Linked DNA regions of Homo sapiens. The protein of the gene in region 1 interacts with the protein of each later gene in a pairwise test. Each region holds a gene or a part of one and is shown in the gene's direction. Other genes may lie near its edges. The genes, in order: BRPF3 and NCK1.

The links.
Region 2: the proteins of BRPF3 (region 1) and NCK1 interact in binary tests that used the Homo sapiens proteins (3 or more experiments, as listed by UniProt).

What each region holds. Positions count from the first base shown.
Region 1 is NC_000006.12:36,227,447-36,230,539, forward strand, and holds part of BRPF3 (bromodomain and PHD finger-containing protein 3), read left to right. Parts: intron 1-1,455; coding exon 1,456-1,610; intron 1,611-2,412; coding exon of another isoform or gene 2,413-2,413; exon of another isoform or gene 2,414-2,979; coding exon 2,980-3,093. UniProt on the Homo sapiens protein: Scaffold subunit of various histone acetyltransferase (HAT) complexes, such as the MOZ/MORF and HBO1 complexes, which have a histone H3 acetyltransferase activity.
Region 2 is NC_000003.12:136,942,155-136,945,974, forward strand, and holds part of NCK1 (SH2/SH3 adapter protein NCK1), read left to right. Parts: intron 1-3,428; coding exon 3,429-3,820. UniProt on the Homo sapiens protein: Adapter protein which associates with tyrosine-phosphorylated growth factor receptors, such as KDR and PDGFRB, or their cellular substrates. Maintains low levels of EIF2S1 phosphorylation by promoting its dephosphorylation by PP1.

The sequences.
Region 1 (3,093 bases):
GTTGTTTTACATTTGCATAGTATTCATTGAATGAATGGACCATTTATTATTTTGGGACACAAAAGCTGTCCTCAGTTGGCAGACTTACCCACCTTGCTTTTGCCCTCAGGGGAAATTTTTCACAATCTACCCTCTGCAAGCACCCTGGGTTCCAAGGCAGGAACCAGCATGCCTTAGTCAAGAGGAAACATATCAGAGTAGCCTCACTGTCTTGTTTGGTAATCAAGGAAGCTTACAAGGGCTTGTATGGTGGTTCTCCTTAAGACCCTTTACTTCAATCCCAGGAGGGACAGACAGGCTGGGAGAGAGAGTTTTGATCAAATTACACACCTGGTGGGTGGGGTAAGGTGGTTCTTCCTTAGAGTAAACTCCTAACCAGAACAGCTGCTTTCAGCTGCTTATCTTGAGAGGGATGTAGTGAAATTGGCAGACAAGCAAAGGTAAATAATGAGAGCAGTTTATTGTAAGAAGGGGCCCACTGGGACAGCGTATAGGAAGTAAGATTGCTCTGTCTCTGGAGAAGGCTGCTTCCTCAGTAAGTTCCTAGTCTTTGCTCCCAGAGCTATTAGCTGTCTGCTCTGGAAGCAGGGGCTGTGTAGGAGGCAGTGGGCTGTGGAGGCCCAAGCCTTGTTTGGTTTTAGTACCAATGTGGTTTTAGCCAGCTACATTCTGCTTCTGTGCTTGGTGTTTTCCTCTTGTCAGCTAACACCTGTTAGCAGACTTCTCAGCATCAGCAAGAGATTGAAATGAGATGATGTGTGAATAATTAGGAGCTTTGGAAACTTTGAAAGTGCTCCCTAGACCTGGATTTTGATTGTTGTGTTGATGCTGCCAGGCATTTTGCTGAGCACCTGCCGTCTCTGAGCCAGGCAAGGTGGGGCTGGATGCCAGAAGCAAACCTGAAGGAGAAGGGCCCAGCTGCTGCCCTTGTGGAGCTTATTGCCTCAAGGATTAATGCCTCCAGTGGCCCTTGTTTCCACCCACATCATACCCCCCTCTCCATCAACCTCCAAGCTCATTCTCTAGCTATACACTGAGCCTCCTCTCTGATCTTACCATGGAGGTGTCACAAATATATCTGGTCCATGTATCAGGAAGGATTGTAGTCAGACAGGAAGGTAGTGGGTAACCAGAGACCTCGTTAGAACCAACTGGATGGCCTTCCCGATGCAAAGCCTTCTTCATAGCCGTGGTACCTAGGGAAGGCCCCCAAACATTTGAGGTGAATTGCAAAGGTACTAAGGGGAAATTGACAGGAAAAAAAAAGTGACCTCTACTCTTCTGTCCTAAGGGACATTGGAGGAAGGGGTTTGCCTGTCTGGTCTGGACATCAAAGATATCCCACTCAGGCCTGATACTCCCCTGGTGTGGGTGCTTCAGCAGTTGGTCCTGCAGCAGGGGCACTGCTCACCCTGGCCTCCCTCACTGAGTGCCCATCTTCTATTCTGCCTCCAGATCATCGATCCCAAGATGCCCCGGGAGGGCCTCCTGCACAATGGCGTTCCCATCCCTGTCCCCCCGCTGGACGTGCTGAAGCTGGGAGAGCAGAAACAGGCAGAGGCTGGAGAGAAGCTCTTCCTTGTCCTCTTCTTTGACAACAAGCGCACCTGGTTAGTGGGTGCTGCTGTGAGGGGGCTGAGGGGCACGCCAGGGGTCTGTGCCAGTGGTGCTGTGCTAGTGAGGTGTACAGAGGGGCCATGGATGTTACCAGTTACCCTGGTCTCCACTTGCCAGCAACAGGCCTGCACTTGGCATGTTAATAGTAACTGAGGGGTGTTGCAGATCAGATTCCCTGGGAAACACTCTGAGGTCGAGACTTGCATCAGGAGGCTATTGAGGAGAGCTGTGGGGCGGGAGCGATGCAGCACTGGGCAGAAGTTGAACTACAGCCCACTTGCTGCCTCAGCTCATCCACTGGGCACATCTGGAGCTGGGTGGCTCAACAAGATAAGAGATGTCAGGAATTGGGCCTGTGCCTTTTTGCCCTGTGCCAACTAGTTATTCAATGCCACTGCCCTGAGGGAGGGGTGTGGCCTGGGCCTGAGGCTTCCATGGTGGAGAGTGATTCCTAGAGAGGGACTCAGATGAGAGCCTGTGAGCTTCCAGCACTTCCAGTAGCTTCTGGGAAGCATGTTTCCGTCCTGAGGGGGGTTCTGGCCAGTGCAGTGTCCGCTACAGGAGACTTGCTCATTTATGGTTTACAACACTTAAGGTTTCTCTTAGCACCAACAAGAGAGTGCTTTCACCTTAGCTTCTATAGAGTGAGGAGGGAGAACTAGCTAATAAAAACAGTGATAATAGTAGCTGCCATTGAGTGCTTACTCCATGTCCTTATGCAGATTGCTTTATATATCTGATCTCTTTTAATCCTCATTTAAGTCTTCATTAATCCCCTCATAATCCATTTTGCAGATGAGGAAGTTGAGGCTCAGAAAGTCCAGACCCTGTAGCCAGAACTAAGATACAAAACAAGATCTTGCTCCAAAGGCTGTATCCTTAGCCACATGTTATATTCACCCGGGGAGCTTTAAAAACACATACACAGTGTGCAGGTCCCACCACAGATGAGTTTATCAGTTCCTGGCATCAGCTCTACTTCCTAGCCATCGCCCCCTAATTCTCCAACGCAAGGCGAGGCTCAGAGCCCTCCAGGGTGGCTCAGCTGGCCCCAGAGGGCAGCAGGTGGGCCTTTCTTAGCCTATGGACCCTTACAACTCTCCAAACAGAGTAAGGGCCCAGAGAAGGACCTAGCTGCAAAATTGATTCCATGCCATTCCCCCACCCGACTCCTGCATATCCTGCTTGCTGTCCTCACCTGCTAGGTTCTTGGTGGCCTCCTGCATGGAGTCCCCCAATTTGCTTCCCTCTGCCCTGTACCCTCTCCCTGGCTTTGCTGGTCCTGGCCAAGTGGGGCCACAGGAGCCCGAGCCCCCTGTGAGACCCACTACTGCCCAGCCTCTTACTGTGCTTGCATTTCAGGCAGTGGCTTCCAAGGGACAAAGTCCTGCCCTTGGGTGTGGAAGACACCGTGGACAAGCTCAAGATGCTGGAAGGCCGCAAGACCAGCATCCGCAAGTCAGTGCAGGTGGCCTA
Region 2 (3,820 bases), on another chromosome or scaffold:
AGCACAGGTCTGGTAGTGATGAATTCCTTTAGTTTTTGTTTATCTGGGAATGTCTTATGTTCTCCTTCATTTTTGAAGGACAGTTTTGCTAAATATAGAATTCTTTGTTGGCTCTTTTGCTTTCAGCATCAGATCAGATTCTATCCCCTCCCCAGGGCTTATTACTGCTGCTTATTGTGAGTGGTTGTTGTTTGCTTGTTTAGTGACTTTACTAAACTACTTTTATAAGCTCTATATTCCTGGTCATGTGGGGCCGCTGAAGTCTATTCCATTTGCTTAGTAATCAGCTAGGGTTTTAACAGAGTTTCGTTAAACACCTGGAGCCAAAAGAAAAAACAAACAAACAAAAGAAAACCTCTCCCCATCTTTACAGATGGCTTTATGTTGGGGCAGTTTTTGACCACTTAGTGATGCCATTTATAATTCTGCCTTAGCCTTTGCTTACTGTTTGCTCAAAGCCTGAAGATCAGCCAGGGTGAAAGCTTAGGGTCTTCTTGGGCCTTTCCTGAATGTGCATCCAGCCCTGGCCATGTGCACGTCCTTCTTGATTGGTATACACACCCCTTATTACCCCATGTATATTCTTTCCCATCCCCTTTCTGTCCAGGCTTTTCCATCTGTCTGTTCCTTGTCCCAGTTGTTGTCCCTTGCCCCAGGCTGCTGCATCCATTAAATGATTTTTGCAAAAACCACCCAGGAAGACTCCCTATGCCTGGGAATGATTCAAGTCAGGCAAAGCCAAGGCAAGCCATTGCTCAGGTCCTTCAGGGAGCTGCCAGACAAGTTGAAACCCACAATCACAATTGTTTAAGAATGAGATCTGTATTGCTTCCTCTGGCATTAGGAGTGCAGGTTACTGTCCACACAGCCATCACTGACTTGGGGTGTGGGGGATGGTGGGCAGGCAACTTAGGATGCGATAGCACTCTCTTTACCACAAAGCAGCAACTTCTTTCTTTACCAAGCCTTGCCCTAGATTTTATAAGTTTTTTTTTTTTACTAGATTCCAGAGTTCTGCAAAAGTTGAGTCTGACAGTATTTACCAGCTCATTAATTGCATTCATTGCTTTTTGCAGGGACAGTGCCTTGGAGTTCCTTACTCTACTATTTTTGGTGGTATCACCCCAAATGTAGGGATTTCTCTGAAGGCTATCATTAACCGGAAGTAAGAAAATTAGGAAGGAAGAAGTTGATTTAGGGGTATAGACTGGATTATTTTTATTTGGACATGAGTGTTGGGTTTGAGGTACTGATGGCACAATCTGTGGGTGTCTAGTGACAGTTGGAATTGTAATGCCTGAATTCCAGAAAGGTCTTAGAGCTGCAAAGAGATCTGGGAACCTTCTGCACAGAAATTATAGAAAATGAAAGTGTATGATTTCCTTGGAATAGAGAGGAAGGTCAAGTATGTCATCTTGTGAAACACTTTCAGCTAAGGAATTCTTCATTTATTCATTCAGCATGTTTGCTGACTGCTGAATACATAATTTTGTTTTTCCTTTGTTCCTACTACTGATGTATGTACTGCTAAGCGTTGGAGACAGAAACGAATAAGATCTCGTTTTCTGCCCTCAGGAAGTTCACTCATATTGAGGAAGACAGACAAGTAAACAAGTACAATGCAGTGTTATAATAACAAGGTTAGAGGAGCCTAGACAGAGGTAAACAAGAATATGTAAACAGGTTGGGAGGGAAAATAAGAAATTCGGGGAAGTCAAAGAAGAAGAAAACATAATGGAGAGAGTGGGCTGTGATCTTGGTTGCTGCATATAGAGTTTGAGAAGGCTGAGGACTTTAAAAGTTACTGATTTGACAGTAAGGAGAGATGACATAAGAATGGTATTCATAAGAATGGTTTTAATTGAGTAGTTTTGTTAGAATGTTGGAGACAAAGGATCAGATAATAAAGAGTTGGGAGTGTGAGTGGTGAAAAAGTCGAGGGAAAAGGAAAAACAACCTTTTTTTTTTTTTTTTTTTTTTTTTGAGACAGAGTCTTGCCCTGTCGCCAGGCTGGAGTATAGTGACGTGATCTTGGCTCACTGCAACCTCCGCCTGCCAGGTTCAAACGATTCTCCTGCCTCAGCCTCCTGAGTAGCTGGGACTACAGGTGCACACCACTGCACCCAGCTAATTTTTGTATTTTTAGTAGAGACGGGGTTTCACCATGTTTGGCCAGGATGGTCTCGATCTCTTGAGCTTGTGATCTGCCCGCCTCAGCCTCCCAGAATGCTGGGATTACTGGCATGAGCCACCGTGCCCAGCCGGGAAAGACAACTTTTAAAAGAGTGGTATAGTTTATTCTATAGGAAAATTGGACCAGTTAGAGAAAAAATAAATAAATTACCAAAATGTTACGGTTTAAAAGTTGTAGCAGAGTTAAAGTAACTTCATTTTGGAGTAGAAAAGATATGAGTGTGTTTTTAGACAATTGAAGGGACTAAATAGGAAGGAAAACAAGGATGTCGAGAGTCCCAAGAGAGTCAGGAAAGATAGTATTAAGATCCTAGAAGGATCAGGATTTGGAGACTTGAGTGAAGAACGAGAGTGAGGATAATGAGAGTTTTGAGACAAAAGGAATTTGAGAAGTTTTACCTAGGGAAGCCTCAGTTTTCTAGGTAAAGTAGAGCATAAAATCACACGCTAAGAAATGGGCAGCAGTGAAAATGCCTGACTGAAGTTGATGTAGCGTACATTTGTATTGATAGTACCATTTGGTGATTTTCTCATTTCTTTCAACACATATGTGTTAAGCATTTACTGTGTACTAAGCACTATACAAGATCCTTGGGATTCTATCTGTAAACAAACAAAACTCCCTGTCCTTTTGGAGGTTACATATGACTGGGGTAAGGGGAGAAAAACAAATAATATTTTAAAATAAACATATGAGGTAAATAGAGCTACCTGGGTCTGGGAACCAAGAAAGCAAATGGGAAGATTAGCCAGACATAACTGCAATTTTATATTGCATATCATATTCTGATTTAAGATAGAAATAATTTTATTTTTATACAGCTCATTGTAGAATCTAGCTTGCTTAAACTAAGACAAGAAGAGTATGGGTGTGGTGGAGCCTTTGTGTACTTAGATTGTAGCTATGAAAGAAATCTATATTTACATTTAAGAGGGAATTCATTAATTTAGGACAACTTTATAATTATGTTATATAGTTATTTCAGGGCCTTTGACAAGAGAAAAGATGGTGAACTGTCATATAATAACAAATTAAATATTTATTTGGTTAAGAAAAAGAAAATTTGCATCTTATTTCCAAAAAGATGATTTTTAACTACATAGAAATTTGTTATATTTAAAAGCTTTAAAGATCTATATAGAGTTGAAGATCTCTTTTTAATAATGAATAAGTTCATTCTTTTGGTAATCATTTTTTTATATTCTCCTCTCATGGCCCTTTTTAATTTCAACAGGCATTGGAAAAGTGAAAAGAAAACCTAGTGTGCCAGATTCTGCATCTCCTGCTGATGATAGTTTTGTTGACCCAGGGGAACGTCTCTATGACCTCAACATGCCCGCTTATGTGAAATTTAACTACATGGCTGAGAGAGAGGATGAATTATCATTGATAAAGGGGACAAAGGTGATCGTCATGGAGAAATGCAGTGATGGGTGGTGGCGTGGTAGCTACAATGGACAAGTTGGATGGTTCCCTTCAAACTATGTAACTGAAGAAGGTGACAGTCCTTTGGGTGACCATGTGGGTTCTCTGTCAGAGAAATTAGCAGCAGTCGTCAATAACCTAAATACTGGGCAAGTGTTGCATGTGGTACAGGCTCTTTACCCATTCAGCTCATCTAATGAT